4 separate regions of the Homo sapiens genome follow, and regions 2, 3 and 4 are each linked to region 1. Evidence: fine-mapped expression QTL. A gene starts in region 1. Each other region holds a variant in brackets. All regions are shown on one strand. Distances are between the middles of the regions.

What was found. PIP is the estimated chance that this variant, and not a neighbour inherited with it, causes the effect.
Region 2: its variant is fine-mapped to the expression of EBF4 in thyroid (GTEx, PIP above 0.99).
Region 3: its variant is fine-mapped to the expression of EBF4 in whole blood (TOPMed, PIP above 0.99).
Region 4: its variant is fine-mapped to the expression of EBF4 in whole blood (TOPMed, PIP above 0.99).

The regions. Positions count from the first base shown.
Region 1 is chr20:2,688,495-2,695,969 of GRCh38, forward strand. EBF4 (EBF family member 4) reads left to right here and starts at 4,286. Exons shown (of 17, transcript NM_001395167.1): 1 at 4,286-5,288. The coding sequence starts at 5,152. LOC105372507 (a long non-coding RNA gene) reads right to left here and starts at 4,126. Exons shown (of 3, transcript XR_937210.3): 1 at 3,572-4,126; 2 at 2,846-2,970. RefSeq lists an enhancer at 5,457-6,441.
Region 2 is chr20:2,751,008-2,758,482 of GRCh38, forward strand. It overlaps EBF4 (EBF family member 4), which reads left to right. Exons shown (of 17, transcript NM_001395167.1): 11 at 693-781; 12 at 915-980; 13 at 1,079-1,256; 14 at 1,350-1,538; 15 at 4,620-4,817. Among named protein-coding and RNA genes, the nearest start is that of CPXM1, 46 kb to the right of the region's middle. RefSeq lists enhancers at 1-56, 125-636 and a silencer at 1,218-1,397. The variant G/A (reference allele first, on the strand shown) is at 3,529.
Region 3 is chr20:2,731,330-2,738,804 of GRCh38, forward strand. All of the region lies in intron 6 of EBF4 (EBF family member 4), which reads left to right. Among named protein-coding and RNA genes, the nearest start is that of EBF4, 42 kb to the left of the region's middle. RefSeq lists an enhancer at 7,233-7,475. The variant G/A (reference allele first, on the strand shown) is at 5,468.
Region 4 is chr20:2,739,443-2,746,917 of GRCh38, forward strand. The region is part of intron 6 of EBF4 (EBF family member 4); the gene reads left to right. Among named protein-coding and RNA genes, the nearest start is that of EBF4, 50 kb to the left of the region's middle. RefSeq lists a silencer at 3,854-3,903. The variant G/A (reference allele first, on the strand shown) is at 2,212.

The DNA.
Region 1 (7,475 bases):
CCTTTTTCTGTGCTTGTCCCAGGACTTGCTCCGCTTCTGTAACAGCCCAGGTCACTCCAGAGTGACATTGAGCATTCATGAGTCTCCTGCCACCTGACTGTGAGCTCATAAGGGCGCCACCTGGGTTTCATTATCTGCTCACTCTCTAGCACTGGCCACTCACAAAAAAGCCCTTCTCGTGGACATGAGCACAATGAAAGGGTAGAATGAGACCCAAGGCTCTGGCCTAAGGGTTTGTGGTGAGCCCCTGCCAGAAAAGAGTGGCATTCTCTGCAGGCGTGCACCACGCTTCCTCTGTCATCACCACCCCTGTAGCTCTCTGTGGCCACAGTTGGAGCACTTCGCCCCACCCCACCCACCAAATTCCTTTCTCATGGAGAAGATGCAGCAGTTGGAACGGGACAATATACAAAGGAACTAAGATAAATAATGCATGGCCGGCACAGTGGCTCACACCTATAATCCCAGCACTTTGGGAGGCCAAGGCATGAGGATCACTTGAGGCCAAGAGTTCGAGACCAGCCTGGGCAACATAGCAAGACCTCTGTCTCAAAAAAAAAAAATATATATTAGCCAGGCATGGTGGTGCACACCTGCAATCCCAGCTACTTGAGAGGCTAAGGAGGGAGGACTTGAGCCCAGGAGTTTGAGGATGCAGTGAGCTATTATCGCGCGACTGCACTCCAGCCTGGGTGACAGGGTGAGACCCTGACTCTAAAAAAATAAATAAATAAAAGGTTAAAAAATAAGATAACTAATGCAAAATAAAAGCGCACAGAGGGTTCCAAGAAACAACAGACTTTCACCTGGATCTAAAGCAGAGACACTCACCTCTGACCCCCAAGTGCTGCCCCAGAACTGCTCATTGACCTTCCTCCCTTCATCACCCCTTGGTTCAGCAGCTCTAACCCAGGAGCCCTTCTCTGGGGCTGCAGGCTCTGGGAAGCCTCAAACACCATCCTGGCTGGTTTTCTGTTCCATGTGGTTAGGATAGAACAGAAACCCACGCAAGTTGGGAGTCTGCCCCAGCTATGACTGAGCCTTAACTCAGTGCCACTTTCCTGGGCTGACTGATTCCACCTTCTGCGCAGGTTAATTCTGAGCATCTATCCCCCAATCTATCTTGGGGACAACCTTCCAGAATGAAAAGCACTCCAACCAAATCACTTCAACCATCACAAAAAGGAATGCTGCAAAGTGAGGGCATTCCGGCAGGAAGGGCCAGCCAGCATGAAGGCTGGAGCTGGGAGACAGGGAGCTGGGTTTGGGAAACGGTGTGATCTCCCATGCTGGATAAGCAAGAAACTCACACAGCAAGGGAGTGGAGGTAAGGCTGGCCGGCAAGAGAAATTGGATAGGGCATCAAAGGGCCTAGAATGTTCCCAAACTAAGGGCCTAAATGTTTATTTGAGAAGCCACAAAAGACATTTAAGTTTCTAAGCAGGCGATGGCCCAATCCAAGCAACACTTTTTAAAACTGTGGCAGGAGGATGGGGGTGTTTGGGGGTGAGCAGCTGGGGACGGGAGCTAAGGGAGGAGGCTGTGGGCAGAACTGGGAATTCCATATCTGCTCCAAGCCAGGGTGGAGTCCAGTGGAGGAAAAGTACGTTTTGCTGTTAGATATTCTCTGTGGGCACTGGGGTAGGGAGGAAAGGGAAGGGGGACCCGTTAAGACCAAACAAACAGGTAGCTGCAGGACAGGGAGAGAAAAGTATTGGAGATGATTCCCAAACTCCAAGCCTGGTGGGCAGCAGGAGGAGGTGCCCAGCACAGACACAGGGGAGTCAGGAAGAAGAGCTGGCTGGTGGAGAGTGAACCTGTGGAGACCAAGAAGCCCCATCCCAGCCTAGGGACAGAGCCTCTTGGGATAGGGACCCTCCCCGGAGGCAGGTGCTCCTCTCCTCTCTGAGGGCCAAGCCCAGCCCTGTCCTCACCCACTGATGTTCAGGACTGACAGAAGTGAGAGTCCCATATGGGGAGACCATTTCCTCAAAGATGTTCTCTGAGACTGTGGAGGAACGTGAATTCTGTGAGGGGAGAACAGAAGAAGAGCGCCAGGCACAGCAGCTTGAGGTGCTCAGAGGGCAGAGGAGAAAGACAGTGTGCTCTGGTCATCAGGGCAGTTTCCCAGGTGTGTGTAAATATATATACACCAGATATATATATTTCCCAGGTGTGTGTAAATACATACACATGCATATATATATGTGTATATATATATATATATATATATCTGGTCACCAGGGTGGTTTCCCGTGTGTGTGGGGTTGGGGGGTGGGGTAGCCCACTGCTGCCAGGAGGTCCCAGGCCCTGAAGCCCAAGAGAGACCACGGAGTCTGAGAGCAGAAGCAGGAAGGCAGGGCTGGAAGGGAGCCAGCACACAAGGGCCCCAGGAGTGGCTTGCTGGGGGCCAGTCAGGCATCCTTGGCAGAGCGTTCCTGTGAACGGTCTCAGACACAGGAGGGGCAGAAATTGAAGAAGGAGGCGAGGAGGAGGGGACAGTTCTTTTAAGAATGGGGAGATCTGAGCAGAGAAAAGAACATATTGAGACACAAACAGGAGATCGGTGGGGTAATCTCAGGAAAGGCAGAAGACAGGACTAAGCAAAAAGGTTCCACATCCATCTCCACAGTGGAAGACCGAGAGAAGAGAACGGGTGAAAAGACAGAAACGAGGAGGAGCATACGCCGCTGATGGTGCCAGCAGGGTTCTGCCAAGATTCCCTGAGTCCTCTCCACTGGGTAAGAGGAAGGGTGTCTGCTGGAAATGAGAGAGCCAGAGGTGGGTCTGAATGTTGGGGAGAGGAGTGGAGCAAGTGTGGAACAGCTCTGGGGGGGCTTCTCACATGTAATGTGTGTACAGGTCTTGGTAAATTGCAGGTTCCGATTCAGCAGGTCCCGGCAGGGCCTAAGAGTCTGGATTCCTCACCAGCTCCCAGGTGATGTCAATGCTGCTGGTCCGGGGACCACACTGTGAGAAGCAAGATTTAGAGAGGCAGATCAGGAGATGGAGAAAGAGACTGGCTTAAGAATTGTCTTAAGGAGAAACCCATGTTTGATAATCCCACCTAGGGTAAAAGCTGAGACCTGAAGGAGTCCTGGTGGGAATGGCAGCCCCCTGTGGGTGATGGGGAGAGGCATAGAGAGAAGGGGTGGTAAAGAGACCAGGAAAGGAGGTGAGAGGGCCTCTGTGATGGCAGGAGAACCAGCAGTGCCCCCAGGACGCCTCATCTGGGCCAATGTGTGACAGAACGCTAACTCACACTTGGAGGCCCCCCAGAAGAGGATGGGAGTGAGTTGGAGCAGGAAGGTGTTATTGCAGGGGTGTCTGAGCGTGAACATGGCAGGCAGGGCAGGTGGCCCCCATGCTGTTCTGCAGGAAAGTGCTGGACTCAGTCTGGGCTTGCTCGAAGCCTGGCCAGGACAACGTGGGGAGAGGGGCAGAAATGTCTCTGCCCCACGGTCAAGGGCCAGACGACTTCTGTGCCAGGAACTAATAAAAAAAAAGGAATGGGATCTGAGACGGGACGCGGCTGGGGAGAAACAGGAGGTGAGCTGGGCTCTGAGCCTACCTGTCCAACTCGCAATCAGAAATCAGGAGGTTCCTGAAAGGCACAGATGGAAACTGAAAATGCTTTAGGCTTAGGTAACCCAGCATCAGGAATCGGGATGGTTGGATGCAGGGACCTCGCCCAGCTTGTCTGGGGCCGCAGCCTACGGCAGGGACGTTTCAGTCCTTAGCTGGGGTGAAAGTGAGGTCAGGGTCGCCGGGGAAATGCGGGAGTACAGTCACGCGGGAGAAAGACGTCAAGAGCGAAAGCTCGGAGGCGTCAAAATGAGCAGCAAGTCCAGGCACAAGGCGTCGGGCGCGGAGAGTACGGCGGGTGCCGGGGGAGGGAGATGAGGCCGCGAAGACGCCGGGGCTTCGTCCGGCGGCGACGGGGAGGCCGCGGAGGTTCCCGAGCGCAGCGGGGCGCGCACCTCCCGCTCGGGCCGGGCTCCCTCGCCGCGCGGCCCCGGATCCTCCCTGCGCGGGTTTCCGTGGCCCCCGCCGGGCTCTTCCGTTCCCTCCCGCGGCCTCGACCAGGCCGCAGCCCCCAGCCCAGGCGACCGACTCGCCAGGGTCCGCCCCGCCGCCGCGGCCCGGGCCCGGCCGCTCCTCCCCCGATGATGTCACGTCCCCGGCCGCCCCTCGGCCGGCCGCGCCGCCCCGCCCCCGCCTCCCCCGGGCCCCCGTCCCCTGGGCCCGCCCGCTCCCGACATCCCTCCTCCCGCCTGCGCTCCCTCCCTTCGGCTACCGCTCCCCCGGGAGCGGCGGCGGCGGCGGCGGCGGCGGCGGGATGGCCCGGGCCCGAGGCCAGGCCCCGGGGAGCGGCGGGCGGCGGCGGCCGCGGCGGGGCGGCGCGGGAACCGGGCCCCGGGGGGAGTCGGCCGGGCTGCTGCTGCTGCTGCTCCAGGTGCTGCCGCCCGGGGCTACGGCAGGGCCGGGACGCCGGGGCACGCGGGGCGCTGGCGCTGGCGGCGGCGGCGTCTGCTGGCCCGGCGCGGCCCCAGCCTTTCCCCGGGACGCGCGGCTGCTGCTGCTCCTGCCGCCGCTGCCGCCACTGTCGCCGCCGCCGCCGAGCTCCGCGCCCGCAGCCTCCGCCTCCCGGATGGTAATCAGCGCCCCGCGCTGGCGCCGCGGGCGGGCGGGCGGGCGGGAGGTGGGGGCGGCGAGGGGGAAAGGGCGGGCGGCCCCGCGCCCCCGCCTTGCCCGAGGCAGCTCCCGGGGCGCTCGGGCCCCCCCTCCGACGACCGCGGCCCCGGGCAGCCGCCAGAGCGCGCCTCTGGGGCGCCTCCGCGCGGACCGGGTGCGGGCTCCGCTCCCCGCCCTCCCCGCCCCGCTCGCAGTCCGCCCGCCAGCGCTCAGGCCGCGGGGGAATCCCTCCATCTCCCCGCCCAGCGCCCCAGGAGGGGAGGGGACAGCGCCGGCGCCCGCGGACCCGCTTTCTCCGAGGGAGCGCCCAAGAGGCGAGCGCGCACTGAGCCACCCGGACTCGGCGCTGCGCTGCTGGAGGCGCCTGGTGCCGTCGGGTCGGGCTGAGCTAGACGCCCGCAGCCTCAGCGGGACCGGATCCGGGGCGGCGGGGGCGCTCACTCACCGCGCGCCCTCATGTTCCCTGCGCAGGACGCTCTGCCCCGCAGCGGGCTGAACCTGAAGGAGGAGCCGCTGCTGCCCGCCGGCCTGGGCTCAGTGCGCTCCTGGATGCAGGGCGCGGGCATCCTGGACGCCAGCACCGCGGCGCAGAGGTAAGCGCTCGGACCGGACCCGGTGCGCTCGGGTTGGACGGCTGCGCGCCGCCTCAGCTCAGCTTGCTGGAGCTGCTGGAGCCAGGGGCGGAAGGAGCCCTAACTCTGGACGGTCCCGGCGAGCTCCCCGGCCCACCCCGTCCGGAGTGCCTGTGCTGCCTCCTGAGGCTGTGGGGCGGGCTGGGGCGGGGCTTCTGCCTCCACTCCGGGCTGCCCCGGTAGATTTCTGACGGCCGCTCGCGGGTGCGGCGGTGAACGCCACCCCAGCCGGGCTGTCTATGGCTCTGAGAGAAGAGGCAGAGCTCCCAGCCATGACCCACAGCCACCGGCCGTCTAGGAACGTCCAGCCCCTCCTTCCTGGGCAGTCCCAGTGACTCTCCTTGTCCAATTCCGCAGCTCTCTGTCAGGAAAGGCACGAAACCCAGCCCCCTTTTTCCTTTCCCACGCCCCTCAGAGTTGGCGGATGGGGGTGTGCAGAGCCAGAGAAGCGGCTGGGGGCTGGACGGTGGCGAAGAGATGAGGTGGGCAGTCGGCCTGGCTGGACTGATTGGCCTGGGAACTGGGCAGGGCCCCTGCCTTTCCCTCGGGTGTTTTTCTGGTAGGTCCTTTGGAAGGCAGAGAGTCCCTGGGAACCCAGCACCCGCGCCGGTCTCCTCTGACTCCTTTGCAGGGGTCTGGGAGTCTCAGTAGGGGGTTGACTCCAGGATTTGAAAGCGAACTTTAAAAGTTTATTGACCTGCCCCCAAAGCCCCTGCACCCCCTGGCTTTTTGCACCTTCAGCTGTGACCATGGAGGGAGGCATTTAGGTATCCTATGGGGAGTCACAGTGGTTAGGATTAGGGAGGTGCCAGCTCTGCTGACAGCTGGGACAGGGTGGGCACTTGGCTTCCCAGAAGTCTGAGCTGTTGCAGCAGCCCGAAGGGATTCTGAATGGGGGGCTTAATGCAGACCGGGCCTGACACAGGAGCCCACATTCACACTCCGCAGGACGCCTCAACCTCACCGTGTAACAGACACACACCGCGCTTCATGTGCAAACTGAAGCCGTTTCTGCACGCCGGTCCTTTCCTGGCTGTCGGGAGGGAACGCTGGGGGGCTCTGGAGCTGATCTCTTACGGAAGAGAAAGGGTCTTGTGGATGAATTAATTTCCAAAACTTTTACAAGGGATATAGCTATATTCTAGAAAAATTGGAAAATAAAAAATTTAGTCCCTCCTCTGTAATACAACTACTGTCAACATTTTAGTGTATTTCCTTCCTATTTTTCTTCCCATTAACTTGTGTTTTCCTGTGCTATGCTTACAATTCCACCTCCTGCCTATTCTTCTGTTGGTTCTGGCTTTTTTTTTTTTCAACTTGAGAAGGTTAGTTTCTTAACATGGCCCCCTCTTTGGCCCCACCACCTGCTGTGTGGCGAGAGCTCTTTGTAAGAGTGGGTGAGGAGTGCTGATGGGGGCCTCTGGGAGTTAAGGTTCCATTTCTCTGCAACCTTTCCCTCTGTGCCTACCCAGAGGCAGGTCTGATGAAGGGGAAGCAGACGTGAAGGAGGCAGTGCCCTTGGAGACTGCGTGGGGTTCAAGAAGTGTGGGGATAAGGCTTCCCCCAGAGCATGGGCCACAGCAGTGGTGTCTGCGCATAGTGGGGTTGAGTGGGCTTGGGGTGTCCAGTCTGACTCCCCACATTGTGAGGGCCACATTGCTGGGATGCAGAGGGCTTCCGCAATGTGAACAGGGGCTTTCTTCAGGCTCGGTCTGCTAATCCCCAAGTGTGGAGACTTCTCTGTCTCAGGACATAGACTAGGAGCCCCCACTCGCTTTGTTGTTCAGCTGACTTTCCTCCCTGTCCCAGAGGGAGCTGCCTCATCCTTCCTCCCCACTCTTCCCCGTGTTGTCTGTCATCACTACAGTTGTATCTGGTTCCTCAGTCAGTCCTCTGCACGGGTCTTCTCATCCCAAAACAGCAACAATGAAAATTCCTCCCCCTGGCCCTGCCTCCGCCTTCATCACGGCCTGGTTTCTCTCCCTCTCATCTCTGAGAAACTTTCACGGAAGTGCTCTCCCAAAAGACTCCCTGGGATCCGAGAGTTGGCTTTGACACCTTCCTCAGCCTCACCCCACAGTTGCCTGATTGTCAAGGCTTAGGAATGTTCTTTTCCGTGTCCTAGTCCCAATCTCAGTGCCCTCAGCC
Region 2 (7,475 bases), 63 kb after region 1:
GGCGGTGCGGGGATCAGGAAAAGGGGAAGGAGGAGGAGAAGGGCGTGGGGAGCTGGGTCAGACGCGCATACACACACACACCCCTTGCACAACGCCAGGGTAAGCAGTGAACACAACACACGTGGAGATGCAATGTAGAATCTGGCCGCTGGCCGGATCTTCTCTACTTCCATCCTCCCGCCCCAGCCCAAGCCACCCACTTCTCCAGTTGCTTCCCTGGGGTGCATGCAAACCTCTAGCCTTCAGATGCTGCAGAGAGTCCACTTGAGCCGTGATAAATGGAGATTGTTAAGTTTTTTCTTTTTTATAATAAACTCCTGATTTGACCAGATGAAAAGAGAAAACTCTCCATCGAGTCCTGCCCTTAGGACTATAACTCATATGTGTATACGGTTTCCCTTTTTTCTAATCACAAATGGGTGCATGTGTGTTCATACCAAGCGCCTAGGGCCGAGGACAGAGGCTGGCTCAGTAAATATTTGTTGAGTAAACAAACGAAAGAACTGAAACTTCCCTGAATCTCGCTGCCGGGGGTGCCTGGAGTTTTCCGGGGGACTTGGGCTGGGCCTGGTGGAGGGGGCTGCAGCGAGGCTCTCGGACTGGGCGCTGGCCTGCTTTTGGCGCCCTGCGTCTCACCCTGGGAGTGGGGGGCTGCGGGGGAGACGTCCTCCAAACGCCGCCCCCTTCCCCAGCTCTGAACGAGCCCACCATTGACTACGGATTCCAGAGGCTACAGAAAGTCATTCCCAGACACCCCGGAGACCCCGAGAGGCTGCCCAAGGTACTCAGAGGGGCGGGGCGGGGCGGGGCTGAGGGTGTCCTGTGGGCAAGGGGGTGAGGAGGGGCTCCCGAGGGCCCCTTGGTCGCCCCCAGGGGCTGCCCCTCCGTCCCGCTGTCTCTCCCCCTGTCCCCAGGAAGTGCTGCTGAAGCGGGCGGCCGACTTGGCAGAAGCCCTGTACGGAGTGCCCGGCAGTAACCAGGTATGGCGCCTCCGCCCTCCCAGCGCCGCCGGGACCGGGGCCCCCCAGCACGCGGCGCCCGCGGCTGCCCCGGCCGTGCCCCGCTCTTGTCTTCGCAGGAGCTGCTCCTGAAGCGCGCGGCGGACGTGGCCGAGGCTCTGTACAGCACCCCCCGCGCACCCGGGCCGCTCGCACCCCTGGCCCCGAGCCACCCACACCCCGCCGTCGTGGGCATCAACGCCTTCAGCAGCCCGCTGGCCATCGCCGTCGGGGACGCCACCCCGGGGCCCGAGCCGGGTGCGTGGGCCGCGCCTCCCCGCCGTCCTCGGGCGCCGCCACCGCCCCTCCCCGGCCGGCACCGCCCCCTGACGGCCGCGCTCTCTCTCGCAGGCTACGCGCGCAGCTGCAGCAGCGCGTCCCCCCGCGGGTTCGCGCCCAGCCCCGGCTCGCAGCAGAGCGGCTACGGCGGCGGCCTCGGAGCTGGCCTGGGCGGCTACGGCGCGCCGGGCGTGGCCGGCCTCGGCGTGCCTGGGTCCCCCAGCTTCCTCAATGGCTCCACCGCCACCTCGCCCTTCGCCAGTGAGTGTCCCCCGCCCGCGAGGGAAGGTCTGGGGCCGGGGAGCGGAACGGGACTCAGCCCCGCCCCCGCCCATCCCGGAGAGGTTGGGGCGCCGGCGCCGTGAGAGTCGACCCTGGCTCAGCCCTCGGGGTCAGGCCCACCGTCCCCGCCTGGGACCTCCCCTGCCGCAGAACCTCAACCCCACCCCTAGGCTGCACATCCCGGGGTCCTGGGGCCAGAGTACTCCGTGCACTTTTAGCCTTCTTTGCCGGTCCGTTATGCACATCGCTTCTAGGCCTCCGGTCCCCCTGAAGTGGGCTCTAATGGGTGGCGGGCGTCCATCTGAAACCTGGGACACCGCCCCCTTCCCATCTCGCGCCCGGACTTGGGGAGGAGGCTGGCGCCGCCTGCCGGAAGCCTAAGGAAACTCAGGGCTCGAGGGAAGCCGGCTTCCAGCCGCCCCCCAGCTCCCAGGACTCCAGAGGCCAGGTGGGCGTGGGGAGGATGTGGTCCCCGCGATGTCGTCCGGCAGAGCGAGCGAGTTCTGTGTGATCAGACAGAATTTGAGTTTCAGTGTCCAAATCAGGAGCTGCCGGGCATTCAGCAAGTTACTTATTTGAACTTGTTTCCTCGCAGTCAAATAGGGTCAATTCCACCCCCTGCTTAAGGTTGATCTCGGATCTGAATGTGCCACTGTGCCTAAAGGGCCAGTGTGTGATTTCGGAGTCCCAGCCCTGACTGTGGGCGCTGACCACATCCCATCTGGCTTCTTAGAGTGGGGAGCTCAGAGCTGGGTGGACAGGCAATGTCTGCATGTCATGAGTGAGTGACCTTCCGAACGGCTTTGATGCCTTGTCATTTTACACTGCCCTCAAGACTCTTCCATCATCAAGTTCCAGATCAGCATGTTCACAGCTCTTTTTAGCTTAGCTATTCAGCAGGCATTTATAAAGCGCCCACTGTATGCAAAGCCCAGGGCTTGGGGGATCCCCCCACTCCTGTCACCTGCAAGAAGCCTCCCTATCAATCATAAGAGAGATTGTCCCTGAAGTCCCAGGCGACTCTGCCGAGCTGGAGAGGTGGTGAAGGCTGTCCCAGAAGGAACTGGTCATGGCTTTGCCCGTGGTGCCCTCTCCTCTCCCTGTCCCATATTTGCCATTGCCGAGACTGCACTGTCTGTCCACCAGCCTGGCTTTCCTTGCAGGGCGTGTGTCCTGCCTGCTTTCTGGCTGAAGGCTTGAGCCTGGCCCTGTCCTCTGGCCTGGGCTCAACTTCTGGGACCCAAGGCCCCATAAGCCAGAGTCCACATAGGCCATGGCCTTCTGGTGTCCCTCCCAAGGCCCCTGCCTCTCCTGGCTCTTTGCTCAGGCCAGGATTGACTGCTCCTCCTTCCCTTCAGTTCTGGGGCAGTACCCTCACAGCCTCTCTGTGGGCACCCCCTTGGGCCAACACTGGTGGGGGTATGGAACATCACATACACTGTGGTCAACAGTAGAGGAACACTCTGCCCCAGTGTGCAGAACCCAGCCCAGCTGGGGTCTTCTGATTCAGCAAGAAGATCAAGAATTCTAGAGCTGCTTAAACCCAGCATCAGCTGGAGACACACTGGACTTGAGGGAGGGTTGGTCCCATTTCATGATATTGTCTTGACCGAGGCTTACCCAGGTACCCTTCCACTCCCCACGTTCAGGGTGCTTTGTGGCCCGACTCCAAGGGGTGTCATTCTCATTGAGTTTGCGAGAACATTCCTGGAGTGACATCAGAACTGCCCCAGCCAGAGGCTCAGGGGCTGTTTGCTTGGGTCTCTCTTTGTTTTTCTGCTTCAGCCACCAGCAACCCTGGAATGAATCACAACTCCCCACACTACCTACCCAAGGTACAAAATGTGGCCGTGAGCCCTGGGCATTGAGAGCTATAGTACATTTTCTGGCATTGGTCTCAAGCCCTTCATCGGGCTCTGGGGCCTCTCCAGCTGGCAGTAACTGTTGTCTTAAAGGAGATGAGGCTGAG[G/A]GCATTTGGAAGAGGGGCAGCTGTTGAAGGCATTCTTGTATCAAGGGAGGTAGGAGGGCCCTCTGATGCCAAAGGCAGCCTTCTCAGGCTATTGCTTTCTTCCAGGAAGCCCCACCCACCCCACTGCCTGCTGCCTGGACAATACTCAGATCACAGCCTTACCAGTCTTTACAGGAGAGAGGCAGGGAATTGGGTTCAGATGAGGATGTAGAAAGGTGGGATCCAGCGATGCCCCAGGCCTGAGCCCCCAGGAGAGGAGGCTGCAGGAAGAGGGGGCAGGCAAAGTCTGTGTGCAGGAGGCTCCCTTGCCATTCCCAGGAGGGCAAGCCGCAGCCTGGGTGGCTAGGGAGTTTGAGAGCAGGAAGATCTGAGGATGTACATCCCTGCAATTTGCTTTAAAATTGACCAGCTGGAAGTGGGAGATTCAGGAGACCACCCCCCCCCACAGGGCCCAGGCTGGAGATGACAAGGACCTGCATTAAGCTGTAAGGAAACAAAGTACCCCAGGGTGCAGGGGGAAGTGGGAGAGGGACAGAGGAGCATAGGGAACATTGGCAAGGAGAGCATATTTGAGGAGGAAGTTGGAGTGCTGTTTGTGATGCTGGGCAGAGAGGCTTATAACAGGAGCCTGTGCGTTCCCCCAAACTTCATCCCTAACTACTTGTTCCAGCTCTTCTGTGACTCCTGAACTATGACTCTAGCCTTGGCACCCCAAGCAAGGCTCATAAATGTTTCCTAGCATCTCAGAATCCCAGGGGTTTTCAGCAGAAATCCTGAAGTAGTCCAGCTGTTGCTCATCTCATTTTTGGGGGGTACCTCCCACTGTTTGTTTTTTTTGAATGTTCTGGTTTTGCTTTTGTCTTTACCTGGTCTGGCCCTGTCATCCCCAGCCCCGAGAAAAGGTCTCCAGAACCGCTGAGAGGTCAGGGCTGGCCCAGGACCCTCACAGCTCCCAGTGAGATCTGAGCCTGGTACCTGTGTCAGCAGCCCATGTGGGGCCCCAGCCAAGCTGCTCACTCTGGTGCTGTCTCCCTGTTGTGTCTCCCACCACCTTCCCTGCTGCGCCTGCCCCTCCCCGCCCCGCCCCGGAGTCATGCCCTCTAGCCCCCCGCTGGCGGCTGCCTCCTCCATGTCCCTCCCGGCCGCTGCCCCCACCACCAGCGTGTTCTCCTTCTCGCCTGTCAACATGATCTCCGCCGTCAAACAGAGGAGCGCCTTCGCCCCCGTGCTGCGCCCCCCAAGCTCCCCACCCCAGGCCTGCCCCAGAGCCCACGGAGAGGGGCTTCCAGGTGAGTGATCCACCCTGCCTCACTGTGGCAGGAAGGAAGGGCCCTTGTGGAGCAGCTGGGCTACAGGGGCCTGCTCTGTCCACATCTCACCAGTGCCTCATGCTGGCTAACCTGCTCTTCTTGGAGGACGGAGAGCAGGGAGCTCTGCTGGGGTCCAGGGAGGTCCCTCTGGCCCCCTCTGCCCTGGCCTCCCAGCCTGGGATGGTCACCATTCTGGATGCTCTCAGTTGACCACTTGGCCAAGGGGAAGAGACTCAAATCACAGTTGATGAGGTCTAGAAACTACCCCAACACTCCATCCCCATCCAGCTGAGCCCAGAGCAAAGACCCTCAGAGCTGGTGGGCTGCACGCCTGTACCTGTGCCTCCCTGTGTCCACCAGAGGGTAGCACACACCACTGTGAGGGACTGGGTCGCTGACCATGGAAGGGGACTGACCTTAGAAGAGGCTTAGCCCAGCTTCCCTCCCCGCATTTTACAGATTAGGACTTGAGACCAAGTCATCTTCCCACATCCCATTCATGAAATGGCTGTTCTCTCACTTTACCCATGTGCAGCAGAACCTTTGAACCAGCAGAGCCTTTCCTATCCACGTGGTGATTGGAAACTCACTGGGAGGACAGAGGAAGGGACTGGCTGTGGAAAAGGAGGAGGCAACAGGATGTGGGTGGGGCAGAACAGGTCCTTGTTGATGGGGATGGTGGGGGCCAGGGCCAGTGTCTTCCCTAAGAGGCTTACAGGTGTTTTCTTTTCTGGCTAAGGGATGCTTCCACGGGATCCCCTAGGACTCAATCTGGCATGCAGCAGGTGTTTAATAAATAGTCAAATTATTGAATGAATATATGAGTCAGAAGGGCACCGTTCACACCCACACAGAAGGCTGCAGTGCAGTTTGTGGGGCACTGATCTGGAAGAGGTTGGGTTAGAGCACGTCCTATTGAGTATTCCCCAAGACAATAATGGGTCAGAGCAACAGAGCATTAGGAAAGAATCAGTGTTGAAATTACGTAAGTGGCTACTGAAGAATTTGTCAGAGCCTTTCATGTGCCAGGGTACGTTGTGAACCTTCTAGGAAACAGGAGATGCAAATTTATTTGAGCACAAAAATGTATTTTTCTAACAGCATCTTGAGATTAGTTCCTGGGGAATGACCTTGAGATGCAGGAAGAGACACCCTCATGGTTTCCTCAGCCTGATGTAGGGGCTGATCAGGCTGGGATGCCTATCACAAGAGCAAGGCCAGTGGCTTGGGCCCCAGAACCATCTCCAAATCCAAGGCAGGGGCAGGTGGGGCAGCCTCCAGGCTGAGACAGGGGAGGGGGCTGTGGAAAATGCTCTATGGAGCCTCTGTGCTCCAGGGTCCCTGTATGAGAGTCCGGGGACGCTGGAAAGAGGATGGGAAAGCTCAGGGCCTGGGAGAACAACTGAGGATGATACATGTCCGCAGCGTCCCACAGAATCGGCTACCCTGAGGGCAGTCAGAGCAACTAGGTGCAGCCCAGAAGCTTCTGAGAACTGTGCTGATGCCCTGCCCTGCACACAGAATGGGGTCCCTTCCCACCAGGGAACCCCCTCTGCACAGTTCAGGCAGGCCTGTGATGGTGACTCAAACAATAACAGACTTTTGTGCCAGGGAGGGCGGGAGGGCAAGGGGGCTGCTTGGTGACCCATCCAGAGGGTAGCCCATATTCAGGGAAGGACTTGCCCAAGCAAGGTTTGAAGAAGGCAGGGGTTCTTAGTGGGGGAGGAATGCCCTAGATAGAGTAGACCTTAGGCTGAAGGTATGTGGGTGGGAAGGCAGAGATTTGGAGCCCACGTTCAAAACATTAAGAACATAACATGGCCAGATGCAGTGGCTCACACGTGTAATCCTAGCACTTTGGCAGGCCGAGGTGGGCAGATCGCTTGAGATCAGGAGTTCAAGACCAGTCTGGGCAAGATGGCAAAACCTCGTCTCTAAAAAAAATAGAAAAATGAGCTGGGTGTGGTGGCGCATGCCTGTAGTCCCAGCTACTCGGGAGGCTGAGGTGGGAGGATCACTTGAGACTGGGAGGTCAAGGCTGCAGTAAGCTGAGATTGCACCATTGCACTCCAGTCTGTCTAGCCTGGACAAGAGAGCAAGACTCTGTCTCAGTAAATAAGTAAATAAATAAATAACATACAAATATATGCCAAAGATTTATTTAACTCATCAGTGAGGGAGCTAACAGGATGACAGAGCGGCTTAAAGGAGACAGTGAGAGACTGAAGCCAGTAAAACAAGGAGGGCTGGAATAAGATTGCTGGCTGCAAACTGCTTCTACAGAGCAATAAACTTGTAACCTTCCTCTGGGGACTGTCTTTTCTACCAATGAGAAGTCATCAGCCATTTCTCAGCCTCCTCCAAGTGAACATCCATCCAACCGAGCAAAGCCTGGGCCCTAGCCAGTAGCGTGAAGTCAAAAGACGTCACATGCCCCAGAATAAGATGACTCTTAAGATGGGCTTATTTGATAATGCTCTACGGTGGCTTTGAAAGGATACACAGTCACTTTTTTTGCCTTATTTCCAAGTTTTGGATAATTTTTCTTAGGTGTGTCTGGAGCTTAGAATGTGAAGGATGGAGAGAACAGAGGGTCACCAATTTCTCCTGCCAGCAAAGAGAACCATGGGAGGGGGT
Region 3 (7,475 bases), 43 kb after region 1:
ATAAAGTCATCCAGGACCAAGCAGTCTTTTCCTCAGCTCTCCCCTAAGGTGACACCCTCATCTGTATAGCCCAAACAGGCTCAGAGATACCAAAAGGGGATAGAAGAAATAGGGCATGCAGCTTACTTATAAAGACATAACCTAAAGGTCCCACCTTACCTCTGCTCATGCCATTAGCCACACCCTGCTGCAAGGGAGGCTGGGAAAGATAGCGTCTAAATGGGCATCCCTCAACCTAGGTAAGACTCAGAGGGTTCTATCATGAAAAGAAAGGAAGGAAGCTAGATAACGGGGACAGCCAGCATTCTCTGCTGCGGACATCTGTCTGGCCACTTCTACTGTCCTTCTTCCTACGAACAAACCAAGTTTTTCTCTGTCCGTGGGTACCAGATGCCTCTCTCTCTTAAGCAAACCCCTGTAATCTATGGTATTCCTTTTAGAACAGGGAACTGGCACAGAATCCAGGCCTCCATCTGCCTGTGACTTGATGGGCCTTGTGCTTCTGGGATGTGAACGTGAATTCTTAGGAATAGAGCTAAAGCCAGGAGTACCTCACCTTTCACTTGCCACTTCACATTGTGTGTGCAGAGCTTCAACACACAGAATGTGAGTTTCTTTATCAGTTGCATGCTAGGTTGGGCCCCAGTCAAACTTAATAGTTCTATGCATTCTTGCTAGTAGGGTATTGAAGTTGCCAGTTATTATTGTTTGTTCCTTCAATTCTGTTAGTTTTTGCTTCATGCATTTTGGAGCTGTTATTAGATACATGTGCTTTTTTTTTTTTTCTTTTGAGACAGGGTCTCACTCCAGTTGACCAGGCTAGAGTGCAGTGATGCAGTCTCAACTCACTACAGCCTTAGGGCTCACTACAGCCTCAACCTCCCAAGCTCAGCTGATTCTGCCACCTCAGCCCCCTGAGTAGCTGGGACTACAGGTGCATGCCACCACACCCAGTTAATTTTTTGTATTTTTAGTTGAGACGGGGTTTCACCATGTTGCCTGGGCTGGTCTTGAGCTCCTGGATTCAAGCAATCTGCCTGCCTCAGCCTCCCAACATGCGGGGGTTATGGGCATGAGCCACCACACCCGGACTGTTATTAGATACACATGCTTATAATTGTTATTTCTTTCTGATGATAGACACTTTTATCATTATAACATGTCCTTCTTTGTCTCTCATAATTTTTATCTTAGTGTCTATTCATAAATTAGTATAGCCACTCCAGCTATCTTTCAGTTAGGGTTCACATGTTATCTCTTTTTCCATCCCTTTATTTTCAAAGCCTTTTGTACATTTGAATTTAAAGTATGTCTCACATAGACAGCATATAGTTGGATTGTGTTGTAGTTTTCTTTTTTAATCCATTCTGCCAATCTCTTCCTTTTAATGAAGCATTTCATCCATTTATATTTAATGTAATTGCTGATAGAACAGGATTTATGTCTGCCATTGTGCTTTGTGTTTTCTTTTTCTTTTATTTTTTCTTTTTCTTATTTTTTTTTGAGACGGAATTATAAAGAGTTCCCATATATCCCCTATCCCCACAAATGTGCAGTTGTCTTTTAAATTAGATAGGAAAACAAAATCATTACAAACAAAAATACATTTATGCTGTCTTTTATGTTTACCTATGTAGTGACTTTTACCAGTGCTCTTTATCTGTTCATGTTAATTCATATTACTGTCTTGTCTTGTTTCATTTCAGACTGAAGGACTCCCTTTAGTATTTCTTGTAGGACAAACCTGTTAGTGATGAATCCTCTCAGTTTTTGTTTATCTGAAAATGTCTCAATTTCTCCTTCATTTTTGAAGTTGATCATTTTAGAAGTTGATAGTTTTGCTGGACATGCAATTTTTTGGTCGATAGTTGTTTTCTTTTAACACAATATATCATCTCACTGCCTTCTGTCCTTCATGGTTTCAGAAGTTATGTGGTGATCTTATTAAGGATTCCTTATATATGACGAGTTACTTCTCTCTCTCTCTCATTGCTTCTCAGATCCTTTCTTTTTCTTTGGCTTTCAAAAGTTTGAGTATGATGTGTCTTTGTATAGATCATACACTTTGTGTTCATACTACTTGGAGTTTACTGAGCTTCTTAAGATGTGCTCAATAATGTTTTTCATTACTGAGCACATTTAGGAAATTTAGGGGCATTTTCTTGAATATTTTTCTGTCCTGTTCCATCTCTACTCTCCTTCTCAGATTCCCATTATACATATACTGGTATGCTTGATGGCTCCCACAGGTCTCTTAAGCTCTGTTCATTTTTCTTCATTCTTTTTTCTTTCTGCTTCTGAGCTAGATAATCTCAATTGGCCTATATTCAAGTATACTGATTTTTTTTCGTCCCACCAAATGAGATATGTTGTTGAGTTCCTCTAGGTCAGGGGTGTCCAATCTTTTGGCTTCCGTGGGCCATATTGGAAGAAGACTTGTCTTGAGCCACACATAAAATACATTAATACTAGCGATAGCTGATGAGAAAAAAAAAAAAAAAGCAAAAACATCTCATAATAAGAAAGTTTACAAATTTGCAGGCTAATTCAAAGCCAACCTGGGCTGCATGTGCCCCGTGGGTCGCAGGTTAGAGAAGCTTGTTCCAGGTATTTTTAAATTTTACTTATTGTTCTTTTCTACTTCAGAATTTCATGGGTTTTTAAAAATATAATTTGAAATCCTTTATTGATTTTTTTGGTGTGACTTCATTCTCATACTTTTCTTGAATTTTTTAGACATAGTTTCCTTTAGTTCTATGAACATATTTATAATTGCTCATTTAAAGTCTTTATCTATGCCAGCTGCAGTGGCTCACTCCTATAATCCCAGCATTTTGGTAGGCAGAGAAGGGCAGATTGCTTGAGCCTAGGAGTTTGAGACCAGCCTGGGCAACATGGTGAAACCCTGTCTCTACAAAAACCTACAAAAATTAGCTGGGCATGGTGGCTCATACCTGTAGTCCCAGCTACTTGGGAACTAAGGTGGGAGGATCACTTGAACCTGGGAGGTCAAGGCTTCAGTGAGCCATGATCACACCACTGCACTTCAGCCTGGGCAACAGAGCAAGACCCTGTTCCAAAAATAAATTAATTAATAAAGTATTTGTCTAAAAATTCTAACCTCTGGGCTTCCTCAGGGATAGTTCCTGTTGGCTGCTTTATTACAATGTATGGGTCTTACTTTCCTGTACCTTGCATGTCTCATAATTGTTTGTTGAAAACTGGACATTTTAATCATATAATGTTGCACTCTGGCAATCAGATCCTCCCTCCCAATTTTGTTCTTATTGCTATTGCTGTTTGTTTGTTTAGTGATTTTCTTGGACTAATTATATAAAGTCTATATTTCCTGTCATGTATAATCACTGAAGTTTCTGCTCTTGGCTTAGTTATCAGGCCATGATTGGACAGGCATTTCTTTAAATGCCTTGAATGCCAATAAGTGTTCAACCCATTGCCAAAAGGTTCTGTATGTGTGTTAAGACATGCCTTCAGTGCTCCAGCGATTTACAACTCTGCCTTGACCTTCACTTCCTGCTTGCTCAGGGCCTTGGGATAAACCAGAGGTGAGAGACCAGGGGCTTTCCATGCCTTTTTTGGGCATGTGCCTCTCCCTGCACATATGCATAGCTTTCTAGATCTCCAGGAATATGTCAGAGCTTTTCAGAGCCCCTGTGAACATCTTATTCCCCACTTTTTCCTTTAAAATATTATGGCCAAACTTTTATTTGCCCCCAACTTGTATTGCTGCCTCATGTAGCTGCAATGTTAAGCAATTGCCGCTGGCTGTTTTCAACAAACACCCTGAAGATAGGGTCTTTCCCACTAAGTAAGTTCTGAATCGGGTCAAATAACAAGTTCTGCAAATAAAGCTGTCAGGGAGTTGCTAGAAAGGTTAAAGAGTGAAAACTGACTGGGAATACAGCTTGTTGAGAGGCTCCAAACCCACTCTACCCCTTCCTATGGTTGCTAGCTTGCTAGTTTTCACAACTACAATAGTGGTTGCAAGGTAGCTGGTCTTCAACAGGGCTGGGGAGTAGGGGATGGGAATAGGGCAAATTAAAACACCACAAAGCTTTCTGTTCTTATTACAACTCAGCCATTTTTCTTGCCTCAATGTTCCTTGAGTTGTTGCACACATGTTGTTAATTTTTAGAGTTCTGAGAAAGTTGATTTTGACCATGTTTGCCAGTGTTCTTGTTTCTTTATGGAAGAATGGATTTTCAGAGGTCTTTACTTAGCAATTCCCAAAGTCCTGTCCCTGTAATTGTTATTTCTTACCTGGGCACAAGTTAAAAGTGCCTTGGGGGCTTTAGTCCAGCATTCATCCAGTCACAGTAATTTTTGACTCTTGAATTCTATCATGAATCAATCAGCACCTGTTGTGGGGCTGGGACTATGATGGATGCTTGGGAGAAGAGAGGCTTAAACAATGATCCCTGCCCTCTGAGAGCTTACAGAGCAGTTGAGGAGACAAATATAATTATGTAAACAACAATTTATAATTTTGAAAAAAATTCGTGTACTTGAAGAAAGGTCAGTAGAGATTATCTATAATTACATAATAATAAGAAGAAATAGAAAACAATGTAAGGCTTGAAGACCACACTATCCAATAGTACTTTCTGCAATGATGAAAATATTCTGTACCAACCAATATGGTAGCCAATAGCCACACATATTTATTGGGCACTTGAACTGTAGCTACCGTGACTGAGGAATTGAATATTTAATTGTGTTTAATTTAAATCAAATTTAAGAAATAACACATGGTTACTGTATCTGACATCACAGCTCTAAGACTTTAAATATTTGCTTGATTGGCCAGGATGACCCTGTGGCAGGGGTAGGGAAACATACCCTCCCATGGGAGGCTCATAGCTCTTCTCTGGCTCCTAGGGATAGATAGAAGCTGGGGGCTATGGATACTCCCTGGCATTTAATTGTGCCTGCTGCCTGGTGGGTGTTGTTCAGTGACACTATTGGAATAGTTTAGGTCCGAGCCACCTGGCAAAGGTAAGCTCTGGTCTACTCTATTGGGGGCAAATTTAGACCCTAGATCAGGCACATTATAAGTGCAATTAGATGAAAGGGGCTGTGGGAACTGCAAAAGAATCAGCCCCCTTCCTAATCCACTGGTCAATGCAACATTCCCTGTTTTCCTCTACAGCCACAAAACTAGCCCAATGTCATCCATCTCCTTCCACGCTTTCCAGCAGGATCTCCCACACTCATGCTGCAAGCACAGACTTCTGTCCAGATCCATTCTGGCAATCCCCCTTGAGGTTCCAGAACCTCCCTGCTGGGTCAGTGCTGAGGTGAGACTAAGGTTTCCCTCTTGCCACCTGAATGCACTGCACTTCCTTCCCCATTCCCCCCAACCCCCACCACTCTTTTCAGAGCTGAGAGCATTTGAGAGAGGGAGAAGCAGAGGGGGTTCAAGAGAGATTCGCTCATGTGCTCCGAA[G/A]GTCATATAGGCTGAGATGCCAGTCATAAGGACAAAGGACCCCTAATGAAGAGGAAGGACTTATGAGGAGACCTCTGGGCAGCCGAAGCCAAGCTTAGGGCCAGACTGGCCTCCATGCTGAGACAGGAGCAGAGATTTGGACAGTGCCTCCATAGAAAATTGGGGGAAGAGGACCGGGCGCGGTGGCTCACGCTTGTAATCCCAGCACTTTGGGAGGCCAAGGTGGGCAGATCACAAGGTCAGGAGATGGAGACCATCCTGGCTAACACGGTGAAACCCCGTCTCTACTAAAAATACCAAAAAATTAGCCGGGCGTGGTGGCGGGCGCCTGTAGTCCCAGCTACTCGGGAGGCTGAGGCAGGAGAATGGCGTGAACCCGGGAGGCGGAGCTTGCAGTGAGCCGAGATCGCGCCACTGCACTCCAGCTTGGGTAACAGGAGCGAAACTCCGTCTCAAAAAAAAAAAAAAAGAAAAGAAAAGAAGATTGGGGGAAGAGGGGGACCGCAGGCATGAGGCAGCCTGGGAACCATAATAGGTGGAGTGGAGGCGGCTAGTGAGTGAACCGCCTGCAACTTGAATAATAAGCTTTCTCCACAAAGTGGAGAGTTATTGAGGGCTGGGGACTCAAGCCAACCTGGGATGTCTGGCTATGTAACTGGGAGCAAGTTCTCACCTCCCAGAGCTTCAGTTCCCTAATGTGTAAAATAGAGCTGACCAATGAGCCTCCTGTGATTCTGGGAAGGAGAGGATGCTGTGGAGTTAGTAGGATGTATTCATGCAGTGCCCAGCACAGTGACTGCCTCAGAGTCATTTCTTACCCTCCTGCCACCCCACCCTTACCGATCATCTTAGAGTAAGTGCAGCTGAGCCTGGACGGCAGCAAGAAAGTTCAGGCCGGGCGCAGTGGCTCACACCTGTAATCCCAGCACTTTGGGAGGCCGAGGTGGGCGGATCACTTAAGGTCGGGACTTTGAGACCAGCCTGGCCAACATGGTGAAACCCCGTCTCTACTAAAAATGTGAAAAAAAAAAAAAAAATGGCACCTGTAGTCCCAGCTACTCAGGAGGCTGAGGCAGGAGAATCACTTGAACCCAGGAGGCAGAGGTTGCAGTGAGCCGAGATCGCGCCATTGCACTCCAGCCTGGGCAACAGAGCGAGACTCCATTTCAAAAAAAAAAAAAAAAGTTCAGTGGGAACCAAGGAGGAACGTCCTGCCTCCAGAACCAGAGCCCACAGTCAGGGGTAGACATCCCAGGCTGGGGATGGGTCTTTCTCTGAATAGGAAGGGGGACATTCTCACTTAATCTTCTGTCTGTTCTCTCTGCCCTGGGTGCTTGGTGAATTGTAGAAGATGCCAGGCCTTGCTAATACCCGCTACCCACCTCTCACCTGATTCATAGATAAGAGGTGCCAAGGTCTCTGGTCTTAGAGCCTGGGTCTCATCTACACCACCACCTCTGCCCAAGGCCAGAGGAACCCACAACTTCTTTCCTTCAGACTCCCACCTTCTCCTTTAAATCTCTTTCTGACTTGCAAGCACCCCTTCCAGCTCTGTGGCTTCTGCTGCCGTCCATGCCCCATCCCCCCTCCTCCCTCCTTTTTCTCTATCTCTCCTTCTCTTCTGTTCGTGGACTCTGATAGCCTGCATTGACAGAAGACTCCCCAGGCTTGAGAGGACTTGTGTGGGTGCATGTGTACATCTGTGTCCACACAGGCACACCATGGTGACCATGCACCAGCCCCTTCCTGCCGCTGCATGTGGCATGCCCAGAGGCCTCCCATTAGTGGCCACTCCACCCTTCCTCCTCTCCCCTCAGGCCTGGTTTGGGGAAAGTGGAGCCACTGCCACTCTTGGTGGGCAGCTGGGGGCCCCTTAGCAGTCTCTCCACACCCCCTCCCCTTCTCCTCAGGCCCCATGCCCAGCCCTGAGGTTTGGAGAGCCTAGTAAGTGCCCTATCAACATGTTAATCAAATTACTTAGGAGCTAAAATTGACGCTGTTCATTAAT
Region 4 (7,475 bases), 51 kb after region 1:
TAAGTGGCCACTGCAGATTACACTTGGCACATCCTCCTGCCGTGCCCACCACTCTGTCTTCCTGAGTTTCTCTTTCCTGTTGGGTTGTAATTTCCTTAAGATTTTATACAATGCCGCAGTGCCTAACACATAGAAGGTATTTAATAAATCTTTTTAAGTGGGTGTATGGAATGAATGAGGGGATGAATGGCCCAGCCCTCTGTGTCCTCCTCTGTCCCTGAGCTGAGGGTAGAGAGAAGCAGACAGTGAACACGCTGGAGAGCCAGAAACTGCTTCAGTTTCTTCGGAGGCTCATGGGAGCCCAAGACAAATCTTTTAGGATAAAAATTAGCGGAGATCCCTGTCCCCTTATTTCCCCATCTCAGGCTGCAGTGCCAGCTTTGGGCTTGGAAACACATATCCAATTTAATCTACCCTTCACTCTTAACCTGCTGTCTTTCCCAAGGCCTTCACAGGACACACTGTTGTTTGGAACATCCTGCCCCAGCTCGTATATCCATTCACTGCATACCTTCTTTCTAGATCTGCACTGTCCAATATGGTAGTCTCGAGCCACATGTGACTATTTAGATTTATGTTCATTAAAATGGCTGGGCGCAGTGGCCCACGCCTGTAATTCCAGCACTTTGGGAGGCCAAGGCGGGTGGATCACCAGAGGTCAGGAGTTCATGACCAGCCTGACCAATATGGTGAAACGCTGTCTCTACTAAAAATACAAAAATTAGCTGGGCATGGTGGCAGTCGCCTTTAGTCCCAGCTACTCAGGAGGCTGAGGCGGGAGAATCGCTTGAACCCAGGAGGTGGAGGTTGCAGTGAGCCGAGATCACGCCACTGCACTCCAGCCTGGGCAACAGAGCGAGACTCCGTTTCAAAAAAAAAATAGATTTATGTTAATTAAAATGAAATAAAATTCAGTTCCTCAGTTGCACTAGCCACATTTCCAGTGCTTAGTAGCCATGCGTGGCTAATGCATATCATTCTGGAAAAAGTTCCCTTAGGGAGCACTGTAATCTAGACACGTTCTTCCTTGCCCCTGACAGACCTGTAGTGGAAAATGCACTCGGGCTCTCCTTCCAGCTCTTTGAGTTACTGACAGCTTTCTCTTTGGAAGTGAGAACATAATTTCAGCCCTAAGTATCTCATGGGGATGCAGGGAAGAAAAAGCTGGTGAAAAGCCTTAGCTCTGTGACCTAAGTTTTCTTAGGGTGGGATTCCTGGAAGCAGAGCCTGAGATGGGGATTCTTGTGAAAGAGGTTTATCAAAGGAGAGCTCTCAGGAGAAAAGGAATGAGTATAGAGGGAGTTTAACAAGGAGGTGGTCTCGGTCGGAGTCTAGCGTCAGCCTATCCCATGCAGAGGTCTGGAGTGTGAATGGCCAGAGAGTTGGTCCTCCTTGTAATGTCAATCTGTCATTGGCTGTGGGCTACTGGTGGGGAGTATATGCTCTTGGCTGAGGGTAATTCTCAGATTACCTTGGGGCAGCTGCGAGCCATTTGACAGTCTACACTGCAGCTGGGGCATGAGGGAATCAGGCAGGCATCAACTCACTGTAAAGTTCCTGGACGTTGTCTTCCAAAAGAAGCTCCAGGCCAGGCATGGTGGCTCATGCCTGTAATCTCAGCATTTTGGGAGGCTGAATCAGAAGGATCGCCTGAGCCCAGGAGTTTGAGACCAGCCTGGGCAACGTACTGAGACCTCCGTCTCTACAAAAAATAAACAAAATTAGCTGAGCATGGTAGTGTGACCTGTAGTCCCACCTGCTCAGGAGGCTGAGGTGAGAGGATCACTTAAGCCTGGGAGGTCAAGGCTGCAGTGAGCCAAGATCACACCACTGCACTCCAGTCTGGGTGACAGAGCGAGACCCTGACTGAAAAAAAAAAGCAGCTCCATCCCACTCTGCCTTCTACCCCCTGAAAACCTAGAATTTAACAGTGGACTCACATCAATTGCCTTCACACTTGCCTTCTCTACTGAGTGTCTCTTTTGAGTAAAGCACTGTGCTTGGGGAGTTAATGCAATGGTGTCACCCCTGAGAAGTAGTGTATAAGTTAAATGTTTGCACTTTAGCCATACTCAACCCAGAGTTTGCTTCTTTGGTAGGAAATACTCCATGGACAAGACGTTTCTTTTCATTTCATCTTGAGCTGTTTTTATGGGGAGGAATAAAAAGCGTTTATAGACATGATTACGAAGGCTAAACCAAGTTCAGGAT[G/A]TGGTAAGGTGGGTGTGTGGGTGAACTACTCTGAGCTTTCCTTTAAGTCACAGGCATCAGAGTCATGATGCATAACTACCATCCTTTAGATACTTCATTAGTTGGATGACCACTGTTCACAGCTCTTCTTCTGGTCTTTCATTAAAGTTTTTATTGAGAATGTGGAATACAGGCAGAATGGAATAATGAAGCCCATATAGCCCCAATGAGCTAGAACAATTTTTAACTATTGGTTCCATTGTTTTTTAATACTGAAGATCTTCTCGACTGATAGCAGCAGTCACAACAGCCAAAAGCCCAAAACTAGGAGCAAGAGGACCTGAGTTTGACCTCTGCAACCCTGTTGAATTTGTAACCTCGAGGAAATCCCCACAACATACTATCCTGGTCCCCACACAGCCTGCCTCTCAGAGCTGCTTTTGAAGGCAGGCTTGCCGCTGCAGTACCAGCCTGGGTCGGACTCTGAGAGCCCCACTTAGAAGGACTTCTAGGACTCTTGTCGGCATCAGTGGTTCATAAAGACCCGTTTTCATATCCTTACTTTAGCATTGACTGTGACTTTGTCAAGTCACAGTCAATAGCTTAGCCTTGGTTTTCTCATCCGTAAAGTGGGAATGGTTGCAGACCGACACGACCTGGGGGATTGAGCAAGATAATGCCAAAGTGACAAACTCAGCAGCGTTCTGGGCAGTTGCTAAGGTGCTGAGTGCCTGATGGGTTAGACCTGGTTCCCTGTTTTTCTTTTTTTGTTGTTTGTTTGTTTGTTTTGTTTTTGCATAGTTACCTCCCTAATGCATTTCATTTGTAAGTCATGCTTGTATTTATGGTGTTTTCTTCCAGTAATCCTAATGGAAGCTTCTGCGACTTGGCCTTTCCCTTACTCCCTTTTCTGTGGGGTCTGGATTAGGAAGCCATGCCCTCCAAGAGCCTCATGGCCACAGTGGGATGGCACTGGGCACTGGTCCTGCAGTGGTCACCCTCCATGGGGATCCTCAGGTCAGAGAGGGCTGTGGACTTGGGCTCACTTTACTCCTCCCCACTCCCTGCCCCCTGCCCCCATCCTGGTCAGGAAAAACGGGCTTTCCTAGACTCCTTTTCAGCCCCATAGGGCCAGGAGTGGGGAGGGGTGCTCAGAGAACACCCCCAGGCTCATCCAAGCTTTAGAGGTGGGGGGTGGTTCCATGCTGACAAGCAGGGCTTCAAGCCCCTCAACAAAGTGCACATCCCTTCCTGCCTCAAGTCCCTACAGGGTGTCCCAGGCCCAGAACCTTGTCCTCACTTACCCAGCCCCTTCCCAGGCTCTCTTCTTTCAAGGGGAACACCTGCCCGCAGTTCCCATGTCCACATGTGTTCCATGTGTGTGTCTCCCTCCAACTCCCCTGCCCACCAGGTCTCTCACTCTCCCCCAGTCCCCAGCCCCCACATCTGGCCTCTGTGCAGACATGGCTTGGAGGACCTGCTGCCCCTCCTTCTTCTTCCCTGACTCCATTCTCATCCTTCCCTGACTGCTCAGGTGGAATAAAGTGTCACCCCCTGGGCGTCAGCCAAGGGAGAATTCTCCTGGGTTGTTCTCACGTTCGCCCTTCCAGCCTCTGCGGTGTGTCTGTCTCCCCCTGGTGGGCAAGGAGAGGACCAGGCAGCGGCACCCGGAGGGTCGGCAGTCTCTCTAGGTCCAGGGGAGAGCCCGGGCACTGCTCCTGGTTCTAGACCCCAACGGAAGTCCTCTAATTCCAGGTCCAGCCTTGGAAGGCAGGAGCCTTTAGGGGCGGGTCACCTTTGCCAAAGCACAGTCTTCAAAATGTCAAAAGCGTGATTCTCATACAAATTGCTACTGAGCATGTATCAAAGTTTTCTATAACTTATTGATGAGGGAACCAATGGGATGACAAAGCTGATTCAAAGAAGACGAAGAGAAAGTGATACATGTGCGAGTGTGTGAGTGCGTGCGTATATGGAAAGGGGTTGAGGGGAGGGAGGGAGAGGCAAGGGATTGTGTGGAAAATACTGGAATAAGATGGCCAAATTAGATATAAAGCTAGTTAATGTCCATAGGACAATTTTATCATCTTTAGGGCTAATTTCTCCACCAAACAGAAATTATTTACTTCTCCTGACAAATATCATTTGTTTCCAAGTCATATGAATTTGGGGGCGGGGAGTATAAATTCACAGGGTACAAGTGAAAGTATACAATGTGTGGTGATCCAATCCAGATATTTAGGGTGTCCATCACACAGGTACAATACATTTTGGCTAAGTATAGTCACCCCACTCTGCTATCAAACATCAAGTTTATTCCTTCTATCTTGCTATTTGTACCCTATAACCCACTTCTCTTCTCCCTGCCCCCCAACTCACCCTTCCCAGTCTTTATTATCTGTCTTTCCATGCTCTACCTCCAGGTCATCAAAGTTTTTATTTATTTTTTTTATTTTTTTTTTTTTGAGACGAAGTCTCACTCTTGTCCCCCAGGCTGGAGTGCAATGGCGTGATCTCAGCTCACTGCAACCTCCGCCTCCCGGGTTCAAGTGATTCTCCTGCCTCAGCCTCCCGAGTAGCTGGGATTACAGGCGCCTGCCACCACGCCCGGCTAATTTTTATATCAGGTCATCAAAATTTTTAGCTCCCACTGACAAATATCATTTGTATCTTATCAGTTTTCTACAAATTAGCACTTAACTTTATAGTCTGTGCTCCAATCAATCAATAGTAAATGCGAGTCACTTTCCCCTAGAGACATACACTCCAGTGAAGCATTGTCCGATATTAATATAATGCAAGCAAGCCACATATGTATGTAAATATGCTTTTTTCTTTTCTTTTTTCTTTTTTTCTTTTCTTTTTTTTTTTTTTTTTGAGACAGGGTCTCACTCTGTCACCCAGGCTGGAGTGTAGTGGCTCAACCTTGGCTCACTGCAACCTCCACCTCCCCCGTTCAAGCAATTCTCGTGCCTCAGCCACCTGAGTAGCTGGGACTACAGGCATGCACCACCTCACCCAGCTAATTTCTATATTTTTAATAGAGATGGAGTTTCGCAGCATTGGGCAGGCTAGTCTCAAACTCCTGGCCTCAAGCGATCCACCCACCTCAGCCTCCCAAAATGCTGGGATTACAGGCACGAGCCACTGAGCAAGGCCTCAAGTCACATATGTAATGTTAAATTTTCCAGTAGCCACAAGAAACTGATACAACTAATTATCATAATGCATTTTATTTAACCCAATATATCTAAAAGATGAGCATTCCCACATGAAATCAACATAAAAGATTACTGATGAATTATTTTATATTCTTTTTTTCTAAGTCTTGGAAATCTGATGTGTGTTTTACACTTACAGCACATCTCAAGTTCGGACTAGCCACACTGCAAGGGTTCATGCCGCGTGGGGCTGGTGGCTATAGTAATGGGTAGCGCAGCTCCAGTGCGGTAGTTCTCAAACTTCAGGGTGAACCAGCATCACCTGGAGGGCGTATGAATGCAGAGATGTGATTCTGACTCAGCAGGTCTGAGGGGAGGCCTGAGATTCTACACTTGTAGCAAGGTCTCAGGTGACGCTGACGCTGCTGGTCTTAGGGGGTGGTGCAGGCTCTCTGACTGGGAGAAGCCTCGTGGACTACCAGCTGGAAGGGAGTGAGGTTTCAGCCACACCATGGATGGTTTCGACTATGTGCTAGCTCTGAGGACAGGCCCAAAGGGAAGGGAGAAGGGGACTGACCCTCAGCCCCCACTGCAGGCCATGGTCTTGTGCAGCTGCTTTTACTCACCCACACTCTGCAGGTAATGCTAGCCAGGCTCAAACACTGAGGTGTCCCCATAGACAGAGGTGCTGGCAGGTCCCTAGGGCTCTCAGAAAGGGGTGGTCCTTGAAACCTAGAGTGGCCAGAAAATGGTGGCTGTACAGGGCGTGAGAATTGGTGTGGACCCAAAGGACAAATGAAACCTGTACTGTAAAGGGACAGTGGCAAGACCTGCTGAGCAAAGGCTTGGGGAAGGGCCAGTGAGGGAGCAGGAAACCACAGCCTTGGGGAGGGCAGAAGTAAAGGATGTCCCAGAGGCAGGACTAGAAGGTGTCACGGCAGCCGTCAATCGCTACTCTCCCTTCATGGGTGTGGAAGGATTTACCTACCCCGGGTCATGCAGAGAGTCCAGGCCTGGCCAGAGCCCCTATCTTGGCCCCTTCCCAAGGACCCTTCCTCTTGATCCTGTAGGTTTGAGTGGAGTGGGGTGCAGTGGGCACATGTGTCATCTTTTGGTGCAGTCCTATGCTTGTCGCATCTTCAGTGGTATCCAAAGGTGAGCCTTCAATCCCTTTAGGACAGAGACCATGCCCCATCCTGGTGTTTTTCCCTCCATCTAGCACCTGCCAAAGGACCGAGCACACGAGTACTTAATTTAAATGAGCTGGTCTGCCTGTGTGTGTGAGTAGGGAGTCTATACTCTGTCACATGTGAATGTGGGGCATGGATGAGGAACATGTCGCACATGTGGGTGTAGTGTGTTTACACCATGGGGTGTCATAAGGGGTGTAGGGAGTGATTAGTAACTAATAAGAGAGAAATGGAGTGCGCCCACTGTGCAGGTGTACCTCTCAGGAGCACTGAAGGTGTCTGCACCTTGGGGTGACCCATAGGGATATATATGGCATCTACACATTGGTGACTACTGTTTGGGGGCATAACAGCTGTCTGCACTGCAGGGTATCCTGCAGGGGTAAATGGATTGTCTACACTGTAGGGGTGCACCATTTGGGAAATATAGGGGGTGCCCACTGTGGGGGAACATGACAAGTGCTGAGAATGTAGACAGAGGCAGGACCCCAGGGAGAGGTATCTCTAGGAAGGTGACTGCCACCAGCTCCCAAGGAGGGGCTGCCTGCTGGGGACACCTCAGTTCCAGGGCTGGTGCTTACTCCTCCCAGCACTTGGTGACCTCCTTTTTGGGGACTGGGCTTTCAGGACCTGTAACAAATTTTCCTCTGAACAGAAATTTAATGTTTGCAGACTTTGGAGGCAACTCTGGTGAATTAAATGAACATTCAAATTTGGGGTATATAAGTAGTACATGAGTAACTATACCGTGGTTAAAGTTCCACCCCAGGTTTGGGACTCTTGTATTTGCTTTAGTAAATAGTATGGTAAAAATATCTCCCAATTGGGTGGAGGTAAAATGAGGAAGCTGACTGACTGGAGAAACTCATACAGTGGCCCAGGAGGCTGTTCCACATATCAGGACCTACTGCAGACGTTAGCCCTGCACTCTACA